3 separate regions of the Homo sapiens genome follow, and regions 1 and 3 are each linked to region 2. Evidence: fine-mapped expression QTL. A gene starts in region 2. Each other region holds a variant in brackets. All regions are shown on one strand. Distances are between the middles of the regions. Region 1 overlaps TF (transferrin). Region 2 holds the start of RAB6B (RAB6B, member RAS oncogene family). Region 3 overlaps RAB6B (RAB6B, member RAS oncogene family).

The links.
Region 1: its variant is fine-mapped to the expression of RAB6B in esophagus mucosa (GTEx, PIP above 0.99).
Region 3: its variant is fine-mapped to the expression of RAB6B in lung (TOPMed, PIP above 0.99).

Annotation. Positions count from the first base shown.
Region 1 is chr3:133,753,132-133,761,312 of GRCh38, reverse strand. TF (transferrin) reads right to left here. Exons shown (of 17, transcript NM_001063.4): 3 at 7,610-7,718; 4 at 6,642-6,818; 5 at 5,818-5,950; 6 at 4,976-5,031; 7 at 4,304-4,482; 8 at 3,367-3,544; 9 at 1,984-2,138. Among named protein-coding and RNA genes, the nearest start is that of TF, 11 kb to the right of the region's middle. The variant G/C (reference allele first, on the strand shown) is at 3,736.
Region 2 is chr3:133,892,496-133,900,676 of GRCh38, reverse strand. RAB6B (RAB6B, member RAS oncogene family) reads left to right here and starts at 4,795. Exons shown (of 8, transcript NM_016577.4): 1 at 4,795-5,280. The coding sequence starts at 5,211. RefSeq lists a silencer at 4,776-4,825.
Region 3 is chr3:133,870,296-133,878,476 of GRCh38, reverse strand. The region is part of intron 1 of RAB6B (RAB6B, member RAS oncogene family); the gene reads left to right. Among named protein-coding and RNA genes, the nearest start is that of RAB6B, 21 kb to the left of the region's middle. The variant G/T (reference allele first, on the strand shown) is at 4,547.

The DNA of each region.
Region 1 (8,181 bases), 140 kb after region 2:
TGAGAAAAACAAAGAAGCTCAAAGCTTAATTCTAGAACATGGGCCACAGGTAAATATCCAATGTAGTCATCTTCCTCCTCCAGTCTGGGAATCCTTTCTGCCATCCCAGTAATACCAGTAATGATGTTTCTATGCGAGATGATGACTCCCTTTGGAAGTCCTGTGTGTCTACTCATGAACATGATTACTGCAATAACCGAGGGCACTGGTCACTTTGGGATCTGTTTTCCACACTCACCTTCACTTTCTACTGCAGCCATGATGTCCATGATAACAACCTTGGGAAATTGGGACAGGTCAGTGGCTTCCCATTGACAGTGATGATGTGTCACAGGTGTGGGACCAAATAAACTATGTCTTTCAACTTTGTTTCCAATAATTCTTTACTAGCAATGAGATTAGTTACTTTTGTTTCATTAATCCATGGGCCCTGGACCTCCTAAAGTAGCATATAATTTTATGAACTAAATGTTATGCATGAAACATACCTATCCAGCAATCATCCACTTGGACGTGGTCTCACAGAACATGGCAATGTTGGTCTTTGGTTTCTGCCCCAACATCTGTAAGCTATTTCCAACATTAAAGGCTCAAACGATGACATCTTCATAGGAGAGCAAATTATGATGTCCAAGAAGAACCTTTTAAAATATGTTTACATTTGGTTGTACTTAATCTTCATTTAAGATTTCACATGTTCCCAAGAGTCTTTTGCTCTTCCTTTTTTTTACAGACGTAAAAAACTTTATCTATTGTATCACATCCAGAGTATAATATTGAAGCCCAGCCACTCAAACTGCTAACAGATTTGTATAGACTCAGGTTTTGAATTTGTAGGCTTTGCTTTAACTTAGTTTGGTTTTTCTTGTCTTGACTCAGACAAAAATTAAAATGGAATATATGTTAAAATAGCATAAAGTGATATCTATAAATTGTATGAAATATAAAATAATGAGCTTGATGGTCCCTTTTTGCTTCATGGTAGATAGTTCTGAAGATACATGGTTATTCATAAGTGCTCAAAAAGTAGAATTAACATATTTCAGCAAAAATCTGTTGACAATGGCAGGAAGTACCTTTATAATATGCATCTTTGTTTCAATATATTTGCTGATTTATTATAAAGGATCCAACTCAAGAATAGCCAAATGGAAGAGACACAGAGGGCAAGAAATGTGGGGAGGAGGGGGAGTGGAGCTTGGCACTTCATGTTCTCTCTAGGCAAACCATACTCCCCCATCTCGATGTGTGCACTAACACAGAAGCTCCAGATTAGGTTTTACAAGAATGATTTATGATATGGGAAAAGCTTACTAGATACTGTGAGTGAGTAAAAGGTAGCAAGCAACCTACATGAAATGATCCCAATAAGGGAATTTTCTCTGAATTACATGATTATAAGTACTTTTTATTTCTTCTTTATATCATTCAGGATTTTAAAAATTCTCTGTAAGCCAACATGGAATATTCTTTCTTAAAAAAAAAATGTTGTTAGAGACAAGGTCCTGCTAAGTTGCTAGCCCTGAACTCCTGGGCTCAAGCAATCCTCCTGCCTCAGCTTTCGAAGTAGCTGGGACTACAGGTGCATGCCACCATGCCAGGCTAGGATACTCTTTTGATCAACAAAGCAAATTTGTACCTGATTGGATCCTACCATGTACTCAGGATCTTATCTCAGTGATCGTGGCACACCACTGGTCTCAGGACACCCACACCATGGTCCAGCCTCCCTAAGCAGGCACTGCTCAGCCTGCCCTTTCACCATACACTCATACAAGGAGGAAACTGAGCCCTGTGGGCACCCTTCAGATCCACAAGCTCAAAGATTCTGAACCTCCGGTGGGGCTGTGCTCACATAGTCAGGGCAAGGTTCCTGGGAGCCAGGTTTTTGCATCATTCCCAGGAACACTCCCTAGCTCAGTCTTGGGGGCCAGCAGGCAGCAATGACAGGGACGCTGCCCTAGGAAGGCTGGAGTGACATACCATGATCTTGGCGATGCAGTCTTCGGTGGTCTCTGCTGATACACACTCTATTTTCCCTACACTGTTAACACTCCACTCATCACACTTGAGCCTCTCGTGGTGGCTCAGCGCACACCACTTCACAGGCTTGCATTCATCTGTTGGGGCTTCTGGGCCTATGGCATAAAAAAAGAACAAAGATCAGAAGCGGCCCTAGCTGTTGCCTGGTGTTTGTCAGCACTACTCACTGTCTTCATGCAAATGCTGGGATTTGCCAGCAATAAACAAACAGACCCCATTCAAGGAATTAATCACCTTAGAAAGCAAAGTCAATGCACAATCTCTTGGTTGACTTCTCATTTAAATTTAGTTTTTTATGTCTTCCGAGAAGCCAACTTTCCTCTCCAGCCTCTGGGCACTATATGACCTCTGGCTGTTTTTTTCCTTCTTGTTTTTCAGATAGCACTTAACTACTGGAGGTGTTCTTATTTATATGTTCATTGTTTATTGTCAGGTTTTCTGCAGGAGAACAGAAGCTCCAACACAGAAAGGGCCCTGCCTGTCTTGTTCACCAGGGCATCCTCAGGGTTAGGGCAATGCTAGCACATGGTCAGCATAATAAATGTCTGATGAATAAATGTACATCTGCTCATCTTTCAGACTGAGCTCAAGAGTCACTTCCTCAAGGAAGCTTTGCCTTAACGCCAAGTCCAGGGCCTATTTTTCTTTGTTTTGCAGTCTCATAGGGCCATGGTATTTTGTTGTCATATTTTTCCCCTTTTAAACATATCTCTTACTTTGTAATTCATCATCCAATAGCATGACTATTCATTAAACATTTATCTTCTCCCCAGTTTGAAATTTCCAGGACAACAGAATCAAATATATATTTGTCATGCCATCCTATGTCCAGCACCTAGCAGAGCATATGGCTAGATGTTCAATAAATGTCTGCTGAATAAATGAATGGTCAAGCAAAACCACAGTGACTCAGTGAAATCCAGGACTGGGATCAACCTCTCTTAGAGCACCTCTTCATTATGGTACATGTTGACTGGCTGGAGATGTGCAATATATAGCAATTTTGTTCTATTTCACTTACTCTGTGATAAGCTAATTGCCTTCACAGAGTAGGTAAGGCAGTCCTGATTGATGCAAAGGAAATACTGGAACCAACCCACGTCATTTTAAATGTGGATTTCCTGTAAAGCCCATGGTGACATCAAGGCCATCTCATAATGACTAACGCCATTCAGCATCAGTCTAACACTGGGCTCACAGACAGGTCAGAAAAAGGAGCATCAGGAGAGGCGTGCAGGTCCCTGAAAAGACTCAATCTCTGGCCCCTGTGCTCACCAGGTTTCCCAAGTGCTTGTGGTCACCTGGTTCTTCCCAGGTACTCACATGTGCCTTCCCGTAGATTCCGGATGGCAGTGACATACTCATAGCCCAGGTACATCTTGGCATCCATCCTGGGGGGGACTTTTAAAAACCCGTGGGCAGAGTCCTTAAACAGCAGGTCCTTCCCATGAGGAGAGCTGAATAGTTGGAATTCTTTTGATTTGTCTTTGCCAAAATGTTCCTGTTCATAGAAAAACAGAATAGTGGATGGCAACACAGAAGAAAGGAGGCTGAGAAATGGGACTGAAGAGAAAAGAAATCTCTGCAGGAAACAACATGAAAAAGTTCAAGATGCCAGGAGAGAGGGCAGTCGGACCTGCTCCTGCTCACCCAGCACTTCCTCTGCCTGTAGCCCTCGTGGGTCCGCGATTT[G/C]CCTGAACCTGCTTCTGTGCCTGTCTCCCGGAACGGGTTGAGACATCGGTGAGAACAAGAAACGTGGCTAATCCAGAGGCTGCCCTGTGTGGTTACCAGTCAAACTCTCAGTGGACAGATGGGACGGCTCGGCAAGAGGAAGCTGGCTGAGCCCAAATCACACAGCTCTTGGGAAGTAAAGCCGCTGTGCAGGCAGCCCCCTCACAGCCGGGCTGAGGGGCATGGGGAGAGAGACCATTTCCTTCTGGGAGGGTCATGGAAAGCCTCCTTGGGGAGGGGTTTAGCTTTGGGCCTTGAAGTTTAGGTAGAAAGGAATGCAACAGAGCAATACAGAGCCTCTTCAGGTGTCACCAGCCAGAAAGGCAAGGGCGGCAGACGGTAGCACCACAGCAGGCTCCCTGCTGCTCTGTGGGGAGTCCCAGCTTTTAGAGAACTTAGTGACATGTGGCATGGCTCCCACTGTATCCTGAACACACAGACTTCCAGAGTGACAAGATGGCCAGGAGGAAAACCCCCAAATCCAAGCAGGGAGCACTAAGCTGGAGGGGAGGATGGCAGGTGGGGATACCTGGGCCTGGTTGAGAAGCTCCCAGATCAAGTCCTCCTTGCCGCCCATACTTCGGGCCACGACGGTATGAGAAGGGACCTGGGCCAAGTGGCAGTCCTTGTATTCATCTACCGGCTTCCGGGTGTTGTCCAGGCAAAGCAGCTCATACTGGTCCCTGTCAGCCTTGTTTGCCAAGTTCTCTGGGGAGGGAAAGCCCAGGTGAGCTTAACACAGGAGAGCCATGGGCTGTGGTGCCCATCCTTGAAATTCAATTGATCATAGAAAGTATGAGCTGAGAGGTCTGGAGTGAGCACTGAAGGCCAGAGAACATGCGGGAGAATGACTCGCTCAAGAGCCCACAGCCAGGTAAAGGCTTCTGATGCCCATGTAGCAGTGATTGCTCCTCATTCCACCATGAGCCTGATCTTAGCAGCACCAACCCCCAGTCTTTGGTTATGGCAACACTACCCCAGAGGCAGAGGCACCGTGTGGAGAGATTGAATGATGGAAAGAGGCCCAGGAATCCAGATGGGGACCCCGTAGGTACCTAACTCTGCACAGGTGGAAACCCAGGCAATGATAAAGGAGAAATACAGTATGCTCATTTCCAATTACTGAGCATGAAAAAGGGAACACAGAAAAAGAACACCCACTACTTGGAGTGGCCCTGGTGGATTCTTGTCCCATTCTTACCAAATATAGTCGAGTGCTTGACAAAGGCCACATCCCCAGCACCATCCTTCAGACACCTGGGTCAAAGAAACACATCAGCAGGGCTCCTGCAGGGCAGGCCCTTCTCCTGCACCTGGAGAGTCTGATCACACTGTCCAGCACTCACACTAGGATAGAGCCTGGTGCAGCCCCGTAGCTGAAGCAACACCATGGTGTGCAGACCTCCAGCGTAGTGCTGAGATGGGGGAATGAGCTCACACGAGATAAAAAGCCCTCATAACCCAAAGAAGCAAAATGCAACTGAAGATATTTTCATGTGAAAAGAGCTTTTAAACTTCTGGAATAGAAGATAATGGTATAGTGTCTCCTGAGGGTGAAAATGTGCCTTTGGCTGGTTGTAAAACTTTAGGATATAATCAAGGTAAAAAGAGAAAGCAAGAAATCAGCTTCCCAGATAGAGACGGTGATGGGGGCAGGAGACAGGCAGTGTGCTGAGCAGGTAACACTGCTGAGATTGAGGGAAGAGGGCCAGTCCCTGGACAGTGGGCCCAGACACTAGAGGCATGATTGTCCTTTCAGGCTCTGCCCGATCCACCGAGAGGAGACACTGACCAGGCTTGAGGGCTCTGGGGAGAAAGGAAGGGTCCCCAGGAAAAGGACCTACTTGTCAGGGTCAGATGAAAGGGAACATGGGCTGGCTTGGCCTAGGAGTCCCAGGTTGTGCTTCTGACTCACTGGGAGGGGATTAGGCCACCTCGATGCCCCTGTAGGCAGGCAGGGCTCGGCTTTGGACCAGCAAAGAACTCTCACCCTGAGGACATTTGGCACTTTGGCCACCATGGAGCAGCAGACATCTCACTCACTTGAAGGCTCCCGAGTAGCCGAAGTATTGGTTAAGGGTGGAGCAGCCACACCCTGGACACAGTTGACACAGCTGGGGGAAGTCCGTCCCATCCGCACAAGGGGCACAGCTGCCCGAGAAGAAATTGGCCACTGCTGCTCAGCACAGAGAAATGGACAACAGAGCATGAGTGAGGCTGGCCACAGCCAATGGCATCACCCCACCCAGGCCCATCAGGGAACAGAGGGGACTAAAACCAAACCAGCACATGCAGCCCCAGCTTGCCCTTATGCTAACTCATCAAGATCAAGGATTTCTAATAGGAACAAGTTGACCTCTGTCTGGCCACCATCCATCAGAGGAAACAGGCCTATGCTTCCCACTAACCAAGGCCTATCTCGGGTCTTTCTCAGAGCACCTTCTCCCTGCTTTGTCAGAGGCTGGAACAGCTCAGAGAGAGGTCCCCTCTGGGATCCATGCCCCAGACATGAGAACTGCTTAAGAGAGGTGCAGGGCTCCAGAGAAACCTCCAGGAAAGAAATCCAGAGAAGTGGACAAGAGAACCACCATCGCCTAGACTGAAACCCTCTGCCGAGCCTTGCGCCCTTTCCTCACTCATCAGAACAGCCTCTGCTGGGGTTTTGGAAGCTCAGAGCAGAAAAAAGCTCAGCTCCACCTCCCAAGTGCTGCTGGTGCAGCAGACCTGCCAGTTTAAAGTCTGTTAACCTCTTTCCCCCACCTGAGTTCATCCCACATGTCTGCTGATGGTGACTGTCTAGTGCAGCCTGTGTGGGCATCTGGAGCAGAGGCAGCTGCTCGAGGGCACCCAGACTCCTGCCAGCTTACCTTTCTCAAGAGGTTTACGTGGCTCAGGTAAGTCACAGTAAAGTAAGCCTATGGGGATGTTCCACCCAGCGGACCTGCCTAGACCCGTGTGGCAGGACTTCTTGCCTCGAAGCTGGTTCATCTGGAAGCCACTATCCTTCTTCACCACAGCAACAGCATAATAGAAAGTCTGTGGATCTGCAAAGGCACAGTGTGAATGGAAGGCCCTCAGCCTGGTGCAGGGAAACATGGCTCATCACCACCGGACTCTTGAGGAGGGAGGGGAGCGGAGAGGCCATGCTTTTACTGGACTGGGCGATAAGGAGTGGGGAATCAGGAAAACCTTCCTAGGGTTGCAGGGGAGAGAGAAGACCATAGAAGGAATATTTATAATATTACCCCTCCAGGCAAACAGGGGCAAGAAGGCCACACGCACATGTGTCCTGAATGCTTTGCCTCCCCTGGCCCTGCAGCGTGTCTGCCTACACCTACCAACCTCAGCCACCAGGAAACTGGAGCTGTGGTAACAGAGGCCCATCAAAGTATTTCATGTCCCCTGGCACAGGCCCAGAGACAGTCAGGTTGATCTCAGAAGACTTGCAGGGCTGCTGGCCTCTGAGTGTGTGCTCCAGAGTGACCCCTCCTGTGTGAGTGGTACCTATGGCTCCAGAGGCCTCCAGGGACCCTAGACATATCAGTAGACCGCAGTAGCCTTCAGGTCAAGCTGCACACAGCCTGCTGTGTTTCTCTGATAAGCATATGCCCCTGGCCCAGGGCTCAGTTTTAGGAGCACCAGTCCTCAGCCAGCCCAAAGCCCCCAGAGGCCTTGATGTGTGGCTGTGGCAGCTGACAGGGCCCCTCATTCTCTACTCACTCTCCAAAGATGAATGTTCATTATATCTGATATCCAAAACCTGCCTGTAAAACACAGCACTCAGCATATAGAATAAGGATGACAACTCCTTCCTGGGGTCCCAGGGAGAACTTACCCTCTTTTGACCCATAGAACTCTGCCACCACAGGCTTCAGGTTATTGGGAGCCAGGTAAGCATCATACACCAAACCTGCATCCAGTGTCACAGCATCCGCTTCGTTTGCCTGAAAGAGAACAGGCCAGTCCTGGATGAAGCCTTGACTTCCAAGGAAGGCCCACCTCAACCCACACAAGTAGAGAGTGGCTACCAGGACTCCACGGACCCAGGGCCAGAACTTGACTAGACCACGCACAGCCCTGCTGGCTTCAGTTGACTCTGTCTCCCTCGCAAGGGCACTTAGCCACCACATTCCTATTCCTTCTGCATAGAGGGAGTGATGGATTGTGTTTCTCTTTTCCCCGGTGAGGTGCCCAGCTCCTGGCCAAAAATCCTACGTGACTTTACCGTAGGCAATTACGAAGGCTTAACCTGGCAGGCTCCGTGGGAGAAAGCCGCCCTCGCCACCCCAGACTCAGAGCACAGCCAGTGCAATGCAGTCTCTGGAGGGGACTCTGCTGTCAAGGACACAGCTCTCTTGGGCTGGCCACGCTCTTCTTACACCTGTTTTCATTCCTAGCCCATGACCT
Region 2 (8,181 bases):
CAGAAGGATCACTTGAGCCCAGGAGTTTGAGGTTGCAGTGGGCCATGATTGTGCCACTGCACTCCAGCAGAGTGGGAAAAAATATTTGTAAATCACATATCTGACAAAGAACTAGTATCTAGAATACATAAAGAACTCTCAAAACTTAACAGTAAAGAAAAGAATCTAATTTAAAAATGGACAAAAGACATGAACAGACATTTCATTAAGAGGATATACAGATGGCAATTAATCACATGAAAATATGTTGAACATCATTAGTCATTGGAAATGTAGATTAAAACCACCCACAATGAGATATTACTACATTCCTCTCATAATGGCTTAAAATATTGACAACAGCAAATGCTGATGAGGGTGAGAAGAGGCTGGATCGCTCATCCATTGCTGGTGGGGAGTGGAAAGTGGTAGAACCACTCTGGAAAAGTCTGGCAGTTCCTTTAAAAAACAAACATGCATATGACCCAGCAAGTGCACTCCTGGGCATTTATCCTGGAGAAATAAAAACTTCCTTTCACACAAAAATCTCTACATGATAGTTCATAACAGCTTTATTTGTAATGGCCCCAAACTGGAAATAATTTCAGATGCCTTTCCACAGGTGAGTGGTTAAACAAACTGTACGTCCATACTATTGAATGCTACTCAGCAGTAAAAGGGAGCTAACTATTGCTACAAACAATAACCTGGGTGAATCTCCATAGAATTATGTGAAAAAAAAAATAGGACATGCAGTGGAATAGTAACCAGCAGGGAAAATGAAAGAACTGCTGCTACATGAATCAACAGATGGATCTCAGGAACATAATGTTAAGAAAAATGCAAGTCATAGGACAGAATATACAGTTTGAGACATTATATAAAATTCAAAAGATGCAAAACAAAAAAGTATTGTTGGAGGACACATCCAAATGTGATAAAAACTCAAAGAAAAGCCACAGTTCTGGATTTTCAAGCTGGGGAGAGAGGGAGGGGCAGAAACACCTGAGGGCCTCAAAAGTACTGTAATATTTGAGTGCTCCAGCCAGGTGAAGTGAAAAAAACAATCCCAAAGGGTGATATACTGTGTAATGCCACTTATATAAGATTCTTGAAATAACACATTTATTGAAATGAAGAACAGATTAGTGGTTGCCAGAGGTTAGGAAGGGGTTGAGGGTGGGAGGAAAGTGGGTGTGGCTATAAAAGGGGAACATGAGGGCTCTTTGTGTGTCAAGGTACAGAACAGAAATGTACCTTGACTGTCTTAATTCCAGTATCCACATTATGATACTGTAGTATAAAGTTCTGCAAGATCTTACTCTTGGTGAAAACTAGATAAAGGATATACAGATCTGTCTTTTTTTTTTTTCCTGTTTGTGAATCTACAATGATCTCAAAAATTTAATTTAAATATATATATATATATATATAACACAGCAAAGGGCTCAGGAAAACCAAGATCTTGAAGAAAATGAAAAATATAGATGATGCTGTAGTGCTATATGATCTAACGAATATCTTTGAAAAATAGTTTGGCACAAAATTAAACGTACACTTGTTTTTATACCACAATTTACCTACTGACACATATCTTAGAAAAACTTCACAGAGGCATCAAGAGACATGTAAAGAATGTTGATGGCAGCATTGTTTGTTAATAGCAGAAACAAAACTGAGTGCATTTTCCAATGTTAATTTCCTGGTTTTACTAAGCAATGTGGTTATGTAAGATGTTATCACTGGGGTAGCTTGGTGCAGGATACATAGTAACTCCCTGCACTGTTTTTTATAACCTCTATGTGAGTATAAAATTATTTAAAATAATTTTAAAAAAGGCCAGGCGTGGTGGCTCACACCTGTAATCCCAGCACTTTGGGAGGCTGATGCAGGCGGATCACGAGGTTAAGAGATTGAGACCATTCTGGTCAACATGGTGAAACCTCGGCTCTACTAAAAATAAAAAAATTAGCTAGACCTGGTGGTGCGTGGCTGTAGTACCAGCTACTCGGGAGGCTGAGGCAGGTGAATTGCTTGAACCTGGGAGGCGGAGGTTACAGTGAGCCGAGATGGCGCCGCTACACTCCAGCCTGGTGACAGACCAAGACTCCATCTCAAAAATAATAACAACAATAATAAAATAAAATAAAATAAAAATTTTAAATGACACATTTTACAGAAAATCATTTAAAAATTGGGGCATAACTAGAATACTAACCAGCAGTGAAAATGAAAGAACTGCTGCTACATGAATTAACAAATGGATCTCAGAAACATGATGTTAAGAAACATGCAAGTCAGGACAGAAAACACAGTTTGATACCTTATATAAGATTCAAAAGATGCAAAACAAAACAAAGTATTGTGAAGGACACATCCAATGTGATAAAACTCAAAGAAAAGCTAAGATTCTGGATTTCCAAGTTGGGGAGGGAGGAAGGAGAAGAAAGCACCTGGGGGCCTGAAAAGTACTATAATATTTGAGCCCTCCAGCTGTGTAGAGGGTAAATGGGCACTCAGAGTGATAGGTTTTCTTTGTAACTTACATATACACAGCACATACTAAATAGGAAGATTTAAAGAATTTTTTTAAATGGAATGCACAGATTCTATGATATGGAAGAAACTCTTTCTAGTGAGGTTGCCAGGCTGAGGTTCAGTGGCCCCATTTTCCACCTGGAGAAAGTCTGTCTGCTTTAGGGCAGGTTAAGGACAAGACTCAAAATCAGGGGAGATAAGCAATGATAGTTGGAGGAGAGAGACTTGGAGCAGAGCAAACTTGGAGTCTCTAAGGCTCTCATTTCCACAGCATGATGACTGCATTCTGAGAGCAATGCCAGTATCTGCTCCAGCGACGTGAGCCCGGTAGTCGGAGCCGGGTTTTTGTCATTTGAACTGGAAGAATTATGACAGAGTCCCCCAAAGTAAGCTGGACCATAGTCAGCCCAGCTGGACCTGGTAAGCATATGGGATGACTTGGAGGCTTAGAGGTGCCCAGAGGGGCCCTGCCCCAGCCCTCCCTCCCCTACTGCCATACCACCTTACATGTGCGGGACCAGATGATCAGAGGAGGTACAGGACCTGCCTAGGCTTACCCAAAAGATGGTGCCTTTTCTGGCACACCTCAGCTGTTTTGTCTTGCCACCGATGATCTCATCAGGTCAGGATGAGAGGGTACAGGGAGACAGCACTAGATGTTAGGAGAAGGTGCAGGTTGGAGGAGTGTTGCATGGCTGGGTACCTTGGCCAGTAGCTCACTGGCCCTTCTTTGGAGGGATCACTTATAGAGACGGGAAGGGCTGTGACTTGGGAGTCTCCTCTCCTTTCAGAGCTTTCTTCAACCCCAAGCTGGATATGGTCTCCTAAGAGAGCAGGAGCCCCAGAGAAGTGGGTGGGTGTCTGGAGGGTTACCCTGAGCCTGGTGCCAGCCACAACGGGGCAGATATTCTAGGTGATGACTTACAATCCCTGGGGTTCCAAACTAAAGGTAATTATGAGAATAGGACAGTTATTTTGATTTGAGTTCTAGATGTTCATTCAAACATTCAACAACTATTTCTTAAACTCTGAGCTATGTCCTTGGGATGCAGTGGTGGAGCTTCAACTACTGCTTTTATGGAACTTGTGGTCAGGTTTCTAACAAGAAATAGGAAAGAGATTCGAGGTGAGCACACCAGGGAGACAGATAGGCTTGCCCAAGCAAGCCCCATAAGTCAAAAAGGGGGTAACAAGTGTCCACGAGAAATCTGGAGGTGAAGGTTGTGTCTCACTCCTCTTTCTCTTTCTATAACACATGCGTGCACACACCATCGTGTTCACCGACATGCAGATTATTATCTCAAATAAATGCTCACTGAACAGCCATAAATGAACAAGACCACGCTGTGGCAGAACAGTAAGGGACAGCTTTGTAAAACCTCAATTAACCAGCATGCCTTAGGCTCGGGCTGTCTTGGGAGTGTTTCTAGCACTTGGCGTCTGCTCTTTGCTCTCACTCACTCACAACTTGGTCTGTGTGCCTCGATGGACCAGGCAAGTAGAGGCCAAGGAGAGGTCGCCCACATGTCCTCAGATAGCTCATTGTCCAGATACACCTAATTGCCAGGGTGGGGAGTGGCATTGTCAGCCTGGCGACCCCGGGATCAAGAAACGCAGGGCACTGTCCTGGAGATAGTGGCACTGGCATTCAGAGCGTCACCGTTCCTTCTCTCCCATGGGGCAGGTTAGGATTTGGCATAAAATGATCCAAATGAGCAGCTGGTTTGAGGTAGGCGCGCCTGATATTGGCAGCTCCTCTCTCGCTGGCCAGGTCTGCGGGGGCACCCACAGACTCCACAAGAGGCCGCCCAAATAAAGGGTCTAGGCCTCGAGAGGGAAGGGCGGGCTAGAAGCCACGGGGGGCAAGAGTCGAGCCCCATCTGCGCCAAGTACGCCAGGTTTCCCTAGGTCTGACCGCCCTGACGGGCCTCGCCACACCCTGGCTCTCCCCCACCTTCGTTCCTTTCCGCCCTGTCGGTCGGACGACTGCGCTGTGCATCGGTGTCTCGCGAGGTGGAGGAAGGGACTGGCATCTAGGTTTAAAAGACCAGAAACAAATGTCCCCTGACAATTTCTGTCATTTTCTGGATTCAAAAGAGGGGTAGAGTGGGGAAGACAGACGCAGCGGGGCAGCGAGACACGGTCCCCCCCGGGGGGCTCTCAGGGGTACGGCGAGGAGGTTCTCTCCTGCCCGGGTGCGGGCTCGGGTGGGCGGGCGCACGCCCCCCAGCCCCGCAGCCCCGCGGGCCCCGCATGACATCAGAGGCTGGGGAGCGCACAGAGCGCAGGCGCCGGCGGAGGAGGCAGGCGGGAGGGGGCCGACTGGCGCGGCTCTGGAGAGCGCTCCTCCGCCCCGCGCGCCGTCCCTGCGCCCCGCTCCGCCCGCGCCTCTCTCCCAGCGCCGCGCCTCGGGCGTAAAGAGCGCGCCCCTCGCACCGCAGCCAGTGCCGACCGCAGCAGCCCAGCCCCAGCCTTCCTCCGCCTCCGCCTCTCTCTCCTCCTCCTCCTCCGCCGCCGGACACGCAGCCGCAGGCCGGGACCGGGACGCAGCTGGGGAGTCAGGGACGCGCGCAGCCAGCCCTTCCCCCTCCGGCTCCCGCACCGCCGGCCGCCTCCCCTCGCCCTCCTACTCTCCCCTCCCTGCTCCTTCGCTTTTTCCTCCTCCTCCTCTCCCGGCCCCGGCTGCCAGCACCATGTCCGCAGGGGGAGATTTTGGGAATCCACTGAGAAAATTCAAGTTGGTGTTCTTGGGGGAGCAGAGCGGTAAGTACCCGGCTTAATCTCTTGGCTTGTCGCCGAGTCGACCCCCGCCGCCCAATCGCCCACCCCATTGGGACCCCCGGCCCAGGCTCGGAAAGGCCCCTCCTTGCCAGGGTAGAGGAGAGGGACAGGGATGGGGAGGTCGGGGCGGGGTCGGGCTGGGGAGGGGCCAAGGGTGAGGACGGAGGAGGCGCTGGAGCCTGGGGTGGAGGTGAGGGTGGGCTCTGGGTGGGGGGCCCGGGGTGTGGGTGCAGGTGCGGCGCTGCAGGGGGCCCGGAGGGCGGCGGCTGGCTCCGCGGCGCTGGCCAGGGCGTGAAGGAACCGGGCTCGCTGGCTAGCTCACACTGCGGCACCGGCTGCGGGCGACCGCGCAGGTGGCTGGGTGCTGGCGGGGGTGGGGAGAGCGACGGGCGCCCCCCTTGGAGAACGAAGCGAAGCTGGGGTCTGGCCGGGCCTCACTCCGCTGCACTGGAGGGGTGTTCCCTGCGGACCCTGCTGGGAACCATGCGAAAGGGCACGTCCAGGGCGTGGGACAAACAGCCACCGGGGAGAAAAGAGCGACACCTGTCTCTGCTCGAAAGAGCGAGTGCAGGCCATGGGGGAACGGGGAGCCTACCTCCCCTGGCTCACGTCCGACTGGGCACAGAAGGTTCTAGACCCGCTGCCCTTCGCCGGCGCTTGTTAGTCTCCTTGCTGCCCAGGGATCTGGGCAATTGCAGTGAGGGCTACCCCAACTCGAGGCGATTTGGGGAATGATACAGGGGCACCTCACACCGAGAGGCTGTGAAGTCTGGCTCTGGGCAGAGAAAGGCCCAGGCGACACGCCCTGCCTAGCTTCCCAGCACTCCTCCAGAGAGCATCGGTGGATTCTTCCCACCCCCACCTCCCAGCTCACCGCCCTTCTTGGGGGAGGGGAGGTCACCCTGGCAGTCGGCCAGAGCTGGGGGAGGGGGAGACTGCTTCTCCGCTGCCCGGCTCCCTCCCCAGGAAAACATCTCTGAAAACCAGGTTAGTCCCTAGAGGCGGGAAGCCCAGATTGAAGGGCAGGGACCCCTCTGCCACCTGTAGGAAGGAGTGGCTTTCAGAGCATCCCTCCAGAGGCCTCTCGCATGGGGCTGCAGGGAGACAAACTGAGCTCTGGTCAGCTCTGCTCTGGGAGAAGGCTGTCCTTGCGGGACAGGACCCCAGCTCTGCCTCTGCAGACCAGTCCTGTTCACCTGGGTTGGTGCCTCTCTGACAAGGGGGCCCAAAAGAAAGGCAGCTGTGGGAGGACTGGGTGGGCCCAGGAACAGTGCTACTGTGCTGTGTGTACATGAGGGTTATGGAGGTCACGTGGCTGGCTCTTGTCTGCTGATACTCATTGCCTAAGATGGATGGTTCAGAGAAGGACGTTAGAAGGTAGTGTCCAGGCCCAGTATGGAGATGGGTTTGGGGGACAGGCTGGGCATTTCAGAAGAAGATCCACTCAGCCAGCCAGCGTTTGCCCTGGATTCTGATTGCCTGTTTTTAATAGATCCCAGTTTCATAGAGCTGACCATACCCTGTGTCTGGAAGGGATTTTGGTGGTATTCACATCCCAGTGCTAGTCTCACCCGGCCTGGAGCCCTGGGAGATAACCTGCAGGGATCAGGCAGCCTGGGGGTTGAATTCTTAGCTGTGTTGTCTTTAGTAAAATTTGAGGCCTCTCTGTGACTCACTTTCTGTCTCTGAAAAATGGTTGCTTGAAGACAATTCTCTTACTTCTTCATGTTTCTTTAGTGCCTCTCAAAGTGCCTGGCCCCTGGTAGGTTCTCAGCAAACATTTGTTCTAAGTCTGCACAAGCTTCAGAAAGGACTAGGAGTTTGGTGAAGAAAGTGTCTCTGGTGAGTTTGAGGGAACATCTGGGCTCCTTCAGAATCCCTGATGAACGGAGGCCCCTGCTGGGCTCCACAGACCCCCTTTGCTCCCAAAATCACAGAAATGAGAGCTGAAGCCTAAGAAATGAACCCACCACCTCTCCCATATGTTCAAATGGGAAGTCTGAGCCCCAGGGAACAGGGAGGCCTTGCCTGGAGTCCCAGAGTCCCATTGTGAGTTGCTAATGCTTCTGGGCTGGAGCCCCACCTCTCATTTCCAGTCCAATATTTTTCACTAGCGTGTCATTGTGAAGTAAGATGACCTTGAATTGGGGAAGCCAACAACTGGGGAGCCTCCCCAAGAGGGAGTAAGGGTTGCTTCTGTCCAGCCAGGCTTATAGTTGGGGCTTGTGACTGGTAGGAATGCTGAGTAGTTGGTAAGGAGCAGGGTTGTGAGCCCTTGGAACATGGTCATTAGAGAGTCACTGCTATCAGTGAGATGGGCTGCTGGCCACCCTGGTGCCTTCTGTCAGGGAGTCCCAAGGCCCTGAAAAGCCTGTTTCCAATTTGTTGCATTGTTAGTGGGTTCTTTTAGGTTTTACACAGCTTTTGAGTTAGGTAGGGGACATGTATGTGCATCTCTAAGCCTTATGGGATGGGGAGTCACCTCCACAGCCGCTTCTTCTACCTTGCCTGCACAGTTTTGCATCTGTTGGTCATTTGTGCCAGCATTCTCTGCAGCCTGTGCAGTGGAGAGAGCCACCTGAGGGCTGGCCCTCACGCTGGCCCTGGCTCGCTCTTTTTATATGACCTCAGAGGTCCCTTATCTTCTGTGCATGGGGGACTTGGGCCAGCTGAGCTCAGCGGAGTCTTTCAGAGCAGCATGGGCTTGCCGATATGAGCCGAGTGCCCTGGAGATGGGCCAGGGGAAGGAGCTGGAGGGATGTGGCTTTATCTTATTTCCTGTGCCTAGCATAATGGTGGCATTTCTCTAGCCTGGTGGGCAAGGGCAATGGATTCCCAAGAAGAGTGGCGTGCATGGACCAGGGTGTGGAGCACACCCTGGGC
Region 3 (8,181 bases), 22 kb after region 2:
AAAAGTCTTTATCTCACCTTTGTTTTTGAAAGATGTTGTCCCTGGACATAGAATTCTAGGTTAACAGGTTTTTTTCTTTCAGTACTTTATAGATATTGCACCATTGCCTTCTTGCTTGCATTGTTTCTGAGGAGAAATATACTGTCCTTTTTATGTTTGTTTCTCTGTACATAATGTGTCTTTTTTTCTCTGACTACTTTTATGATTTTTTTTGTCACTGACTATGCAATTTGACTAAGATGTGCCTTGCTGTAATTTCCTTTATGTTTCCTGTGCTTGGGATTTTTGAATCTGTGGATGTATAGTTTTCTTTAATTTTGGAGTATTTTCAGTCATTTCTTCAAATATTTTTTCTGTCACTGCCTCTCCCTTCATCCTTTGAAGACTCCAGTTACATGGATGTTAGACCACTTGACATTATCATAGAGCTTACTGGTGTTCTTATCATTTATTGTCATTCTTTTTTCACTGTGTTTCACTTTAGGTAATTTTTATTACTGTCTTCAGGTTCATTGATCTTTTCTTCTGCAACATCTAATCTGTTTAATCATGTCAGCCAGTGTAGTTGTTACCTCTGGAAGTTTGATTTGTGTCTTTGAAAATCTATTTTTTACCCCGTGTAACTTCTTAAACATATTATACTATATGTTATTATACTAACATATAGTATATAGCATATATTCTATATATAATAACTAAGTTATATATAATATATATTATATAACAGTTATAATATATAATAACTATTTCTTAATATCTTTATCTGCTAATTATAACATCTCTGTCAGTTTGGGGTTGGTTTCAGTTGATTGTTTTTTCTGCTCTTTATGAGTCTATTTTCTTGCTTTTTTACATGCCTGATAATTTTTTATTGGATACCAGACATTGTGATTTTTGCCTTGTTGTGTGTGGATAGTTTTTCTGTTCCTATAAATATTCTTAAGATTTGCTAGCTGTGGCCAGAGTAGGGCTCAGTGTATGGCTAATTATTACCCACTGTGAGGCCCAGCCCTTCTGAGGACTCTCCCCAGCATCCCGTAAATGATGAGACTTTCCACTCTGGCTGCTGGGCAAGAGCACAGTCTCCAGCCTGGTGTGGATGCCAAGCACTGTTTCCTCTAGTCCATTTGGGCAGTCTTTCCCCAGTCTCAAGTAGTTTCCTCATATACATTTGCTGATCAGTGCTCAGCCGAAGGCTTGAGGGAAACCCTTTGCAGGTCTCTGCCATTCCCTTTCTGCATCTCCCTCTCTCTGGTATTCCATCTTCTGAACTCTAGCTGCTGTGTTTTCTCTGAGCCTCAGCCCTATCCTTTCAACCTAGGGTTTCCAGTGGGTTTCACCTGGGTCCCCACTCCCTGTGCTGTGGCCTGGAATTTTCTGAGGGCAGTAATCTGTGGGGCTCCCCTCCTCTGTTTCATGTATCTCAGGGGTCATCATTACCTAATATCCTGTGGCTTGAAAATTGTTGTTTCATATATCTTGTCTGTCTTTTGGTTGTTTCAGGTTAGAGGCTAAATCTGGTCCCTGTTACTCCATTTTGACCAGAGCTAAAGTCTTGGGACCTTTTTTTTTTGTGTGTGTATTCATTTGTTTATAGGGAACATCAGTCTGGGCAGGCAGTGTTGCGTGGTCTGGTTATCAGCCTTGATTTTCATCTGGGATGTTCATCCAGTTGATTGTATAAATATGTAGACTTGCCCTCCAAGTGGCAACAAAATTTCTGCACTCCAGACTCTTTTTGAGAACTTTCTGCTGCCCAGCTCTTATAAAAAGCTCAATATTGGCAATTGATATAGTTTTATCTCCTGAACACTGTGAATCTTACCCTTGGTTGTGCTTCTTTTTTTCCCCTTTGACTGCCAGGGAGCTTAGACAGTTTCTTAGTCTACCTTCAATAATTAGGGAAGATTTTTCAAGATTTTTTTTGTAAGCAAATTTGTGGTCCAGCTTTCTCTTTTTAGCTTACATAACTTTTGCCTTATATTTTATCTCTCTCAGCATTTGTAGTTGTGAATAAGAGAGAGAAACTCTCTCTATACAGCAGATTTGAGCAAGCAGTGAATGTATTAGAGGAATGATTGGGAAGTTCATAGAATCCTTGGGAGGGTCAGAGATCTGGGCTTGGAGCAGCAGCCCGAGTCATATAGAACTGGTCCGGGGGAGACACAGCTCCTATGCTGTGTTCTGGCAGGTGCCAATGTTGAAATGCATGTCATGGCTGCCCCTGAATTTAGAATACAGAGGGAATTCTCAGTCTCACCAGATTCATGTCAGTTGAATCTGGTAGAGTCTTACGTGAACATCTGTTGGGAGAAGCCTCAGTTATTTGCCTACAAAATAGCTGCAGAGGAGGCTCCTACACTGGGGAGAATGGTTTTGGACCTCCCCAAACACAGTAGGGGTATTCAGAGGGATTGGGAGGCTTTTCATTGTTATTGATACATAGCTACTTTATTCTGATACTATTTTAAATAATTACGTTTTCAAATCTTATTTTCATGAGTCATAAGTACAAGTACTCCTTGTGCACAGTAGTCGCATGCCGGATAGTACTGCCTCTCCCTCCACACGAGTGCGTTCGGTTCTCCTCTGCCTGATTTTGAAGCTGGGGTTGACTCTTGGCACCAGCGTTTCTTAGGGTAAGGTAATGGGATGCATTCTGTGGGCAATGTACCCCAAGTCATTAGTCCTCACAGCAGACTTGGCTGTAGCAGGTAGGGAAATGGATTGTCCCTAGTGCCCTGAGTGTCTGCTTCAGGCTGGGGGACAAGAAGAAATCTCAAGTCAGGTGTGGACTCTCAGTTTAGAAGCCCCAGGGCAGGGATGATTTGCAGTGTCCTGAGAGCTCATAAGGCTCTATGGGAGTATGGAAGGGCTGAGGCCAAGACTGATGTGCAGGCTGGGCCTGGGGGCTTTGGAAAGTGAAGAAGAAAAGCTGGAAATATCAAGTATATATTATTATTAACTGGAGTCACCATGCTGTATAGTGCGTCTCCAGAACTTCTCTTATAACTGCAAATTTGTACCCTCTAATCAGCATTTCCTCCATTTCCCCACCTCTGACCCCTGGTAACCACCCTTCTACCCTGTGCTTGTATGTGTTCTACTTTTTTAGTTTCCACATATAAGTGAGATCATGCAATATTTGTCTGTGTCTTGTCGAGTAGATCTTAAGTATTCTTAACACATGCACACACACACACACGTGTAACTGTGAAGTAATGAATATGTTAATTAGCTTGATTGTGGTAATCATTTCACAATGTATATATAGTCATGTGCTGCATAGCAATGTTTTGGTTAACGACAGACCGCATGTATGAAGGTTGTCCCATAAGATTATAATGGAGCTCAAAAATTCCTGTTGTCTAGTATTGCCTATGCTATACTTTATGTTGTTATGTTTAGAGTGTACACCTTCTACTCACTTTTTTTAAAAAGGGAACTGTAAAACAGCCTCAGGCAGGTCCTTCAGGAGGACCTCCAGAAAGCAGTATTGTTATCACAGGAAATGACAGCGCCGTGTGTGTTACTGCCCTTGAAGACCTTCTAGTGGGAGACGGAGAGGTGGAAGACAGCGATATTGGTGATCCTGACCCCATGTAGGCCTAGGCTAATGTGTATGCTTGTGTCTTAGTTTTTAACAAAAAAAGTTTAAAAGGTAAAAAAAAAAAAATTAATAGACAACATATAGAATAAAGATATAAAGAAATAATTTTTGCATAGCTGTACAGTGTATGTATTTTAAGCTAAGTGTTATTACAAAAGAGTCAAAATGTTAAAACAAGTTAAAAAGTTTATAAAGTAAAAAATGTTGTAGTGAGCTAAGGTTAATTTATTATTAAAGAAAAATATTTTTAAATAGATTTAGTGTAGCCTAAATGTACAGTCTATTGTAGTGTAATGTCATAGGCTTTCACATTTACTCACCACTCACTGACTGACTCACCCAGAACGACTTCCAGTCCTATGGCTCTGTTCATGTTTTATGTTTTTTACCATACTTTTACTGTACCTTTGCTGTTTAGATATGTTTGGATACACAAATACCACTGAGTTACAATTGCCTACAGTATTCACTGCAATAATGTGCTGTGCAGGTTTGTAGCCTAGAAGCAATAGGGTACCATTATAGCCTAGGTGTGTAGTAAGCTGTACCATCTAGGTTTGGGAAGCATACTTTATGATGTTTGCACTACGACAGAGTCACCTAATGATGCGTTGCTCAGAACTTATCCCTCTCATTAAGCAAAGCATGACTATAGATAGATAGATGGATGACCCTTGAACAAGATGGGTTTGAACTATGCATATCCACTTAAAGGTAGATATTTTTCAGTAAAATTCACACCAGTGTGCCTGCCTGTCCTGCCTCCCTGTCCACCTCTTTCACCTCTTCTCTGCCATTTTTGAGACAGCAAGACCAACCCTTTCCCTTCCTCCTCCTCTTCAGCCTATTCAACGTAAAGACAATGAAGATGAAGACCTTTATGATGATCCACTTTCACTTAATGAACAGTAAATCTATTTTCTCTTCCCTATGATT[G/T]TAATAACATTTTCTTTTCTCTAGCTTATCTTAAGAATAGAGTATATAATACATATAACACAAAATACCTGTTAATCAACTGTTTATGTTATCAGGAAGGCTTTGGTCAACAGTAGGCTATTATAATAGTTAAGTTTTGTGGGACTAAAAAGTCGTATGAGGATTTTTGACTATGCAGGGTATCAGTGCCCCAACTCTTGCCTTCTTCAAGGGTCAACTCTCTATATATTAAAACGTCACATTTTACACCTTGAATATATAAATTTTTTTGTTTATTGATTGTACCTCAGTAAACCTTGGGGTAGAGGCAGGAAGAGAGGAAGCTAGAGAGGAAAAGAAGAAAACCAAAGATGATAGCACCTTTTGCAGGGCAGGAGAGGGGGCCGAGCCCTCCTCTGTGGCGGCTGGGGCTTTGGTCAGGTACCTGAGGATGGGGCCTCTCCCAGCCCAGCTGTGCTGGCAGCATGTTTCTCTGGAATTTGCCTCTTTGTGTTAAAGGTGGAGCCTCTGGGGGAAAAAAAGCAGGAGGAGGTCCAGGGTGTTGGTATAGGAAGGAAAACTGAGACTAAATCTTCCAGTCTCCAGCCAGTCACCCTGTGGAGCCCCAGCAGACCGTCATGTCCCCAGCAACCACAGAGCTGCTGAAAGTGTTCAGGAGGAGCTGGAGGACCAGCCATCCTGGGAACACTCCTGTCTAGAATCTTAGTTTTCGTGATGACAAGGGACCTTTATTTTGCCTTTCCTTTTTCTGCTCTTGTCCATGTACTGTTACGTGGATGGGATCCTTTAGGATGCACTCGCCCTGTTCCTTCTTGCTGTAGTGGGCAGGCTTACTGGGCCCCCTGTTTGGATAGAGGAGATGGGGTGGGTGCAGGATAGTGAGACGGGGCACTCAGTGGAGAAGTGAGAGGGTCAGGCATCGGTCCGCCTCCTAGCTGGTGCAGGAGAAGGGCCTGGGCCAGACCAGCCTGTGCCACTGTCTGGCTAACCCCTCCCTCCCTCACCTTCTTTTGACTCCTCCCTCCCCTCTACCCTCCCCTTTCCATCTTCTCTGGATCCCTGGGTGAGGCCCAGGCGGCTGAGCGTCCTCTAGCAGAGGGAATTAACACACTTAATTAAAATGTCCAATGAAGAGCTTTGCATATTTCTTAATTACCATCTGAGTCTTTTGGGGGATGGTTTGAAATGGGGTTTTTCACGTGTTTCCTCATTTAGCCTACGGTGAGCCAGCCAGCCCCTCAGGGCTCTAGTGGGAGCTGCCAAAGATGCATGCCCAGTTTGGGGCTGCCTTTTGGAGTCCAGGGTGGCAGGGTAGGGTGTGGAGCAGATAGCCCAGCTACCAAGCTTACCCACCTTTGAGGAAGAATAGGGCTGGACTTTCTGTTTGGTGAAAACAGAGCCAAAGGAAACAAGGTTCAGATGGATATAGCTGGTGTCTCTAACTGTTTCACTTGTCACCACAGGGCCTGGGGGCCGTACCTCACAGTCAGGCCAGGAATGGTAGACTATGAGCAGAGGTTACAGGGATGGTGCAGGCCTCACCCCAAGGGCCCTGTGCAGCAGGGATGCGGGTAGCCTGGCCTCCTTCCCAGCTGCATGGCAAGGGCCGAGTCCCTCTGCAGGTCCTTCCTAGCATTTATACCAGCAATTCCCACTTCTGTTCTAGAAACTGAGCTGATGGGATGGCTGAGTCAGCGGGTCTCTGCTAGGACTGGGTTACTGGTCTGCACAATGAGGAAGCAGACTTGCCTTTTCAGCCCTGAGCACCACCTTCTGAAAGCTGCAGACATTATCTGAAATGGGCCTGGCTGCTGGGGGCTGTGGGCCGGGGATGCAGAGATTCTTTTCCTGGCTCAGGGACTGATTTCCTGAAAACACAGGCATCTGAGAGGTGGGCAGCCCACCAAGATGGCTTAGAAATGGCAGTGAGTTATGCCACATCTGTCCTGCCTGCCCTCTCCTCCCGGAACTCCTGGGGCCCTAGGCCCTGAGCCCAGCTCTGTGGACCCCAGGAGGATCAGGATCCCACTGTTTGGCCAGGAGCTCTGAAGAGCTGGTGTGTGTGGTAAGTGTGGATGCACAGCCGAGAGCAGACTGTGGGCCAGGGTTCTGGCTTGGCTCTGTGAGGGGCTAGCTAGTGGGTGGTACACCTTCTGCCAGGTCCTGGCAAACCCTCCGTGCAGTCTCTGGCTAATGTCTGTGCTCTGCCCCCTGCTCTCCCCAGTTTCTGGCCCTTACAGCAGCCTCTCCACCCACACCCACACCCGCTGTGGAGGCGACAGGGAGAAGAGCTGTCCTTCGTGGAGGGAGGCAGTGTCAGTGGAGGAGTCTGGGGACTTACTGCCCACTCAGCTTTCAGACTGTGATGTGGGCACAAGACAAGACCAGAAGTCCTCATAGCCACTGGCCCCAAAGCTGTGGGTGGATTTGGCGTCACGTGGCAGCTGTGGAGAAATGTGGGCAAATGATTTTAAGCAGAGGAATCTCAGCCTCACATGACTGTCGTTTCATCCAGTCCCTTCCCCGGGAATGTTGTTCCCTGTGACCCCCTCATCTCCATCAATCAAGGCTCAGCCCAAATGGTGCCTTTTTCAGGAGGTTACTGTGATTTCCCCAGCAGAGCGGCCTTTCCTTGCATGGGCCTCTCAGGAGACCCTTCCCGTATTGCCTGGCATTTTAGTATTTGGATCTGGGTCTCACTTCACCACTGGATATGGACTGCTTGAGGCCAGAGGTGCATCTGCTTTGTCACTACAAATTCTGTGCCCTGCACAACAGGACTGGCACACAGTGAGCCCCAGTGGGTGTTTGCTGAGTGGCTGGAGAAGCCTCACTGGCCTCTGCAGCTACCTAGAAACCACCAGAATGTACAAGAATCTGTTTACCTGGGACCTGCCAGTGAGATGGGGGCCTGGGGCCCATGGGGCACTGGTGGAGTGAATGGCCCCTGTTGGTGAGGTCCAGGTAGGCAGTGGTAGCTGATTGTGAAGGGCCAGCATCCAGTGCACCCTGCATTGGTGGGATTTCCAGGGTACATGGGACCAAGCTCCTCTGGACATCCCCATGGATGTGCAAGACCCCTGGGCCAGTAGTTCTCACTAGGGTAAGAAAAATAACTGTTTCATGCTGATGCCAATAGTGAAAAATAAGCTTACATCTTTAGGACAAGGGATTGAATGATTATTGTTAATTGTTTTTTCTGAATGCAGTGCTGGCATTTGTGCTTTTGCTCTGACAATTATGAAGAAGGCTTTTATGAGTGACTGAATCCAAGGTGATTGCTTGGTGTCTGTTCCTTGTCCAGTTGTCTTGGGCTCAGGGGATAGCTCTAGCATCTAATGGTCATGAACCCAGGTCACAGGGAGGAGTTCTGGGCTCCTCTCTGAATCTGACCAGTCACTGGTCCTGTACCCTGCTCTCCTCCCCATTCTCTCCAGCCCCACCACCTCTGCATTGTTCACTGAGATCCTCCATCTCTGGCAAGATTTCTGCCCCTAGTCTGGCTTCTGTAGGCCATTCTGTAGCAGAGTGTCCCCACCCAAATCTTACCTCGAATTGTAATCCCCATGATCCCCACGTGTCAAGGACAGGACCAGGTGGAGGTGATTGGATCATGGGGGCGGTTTCCCCCATGC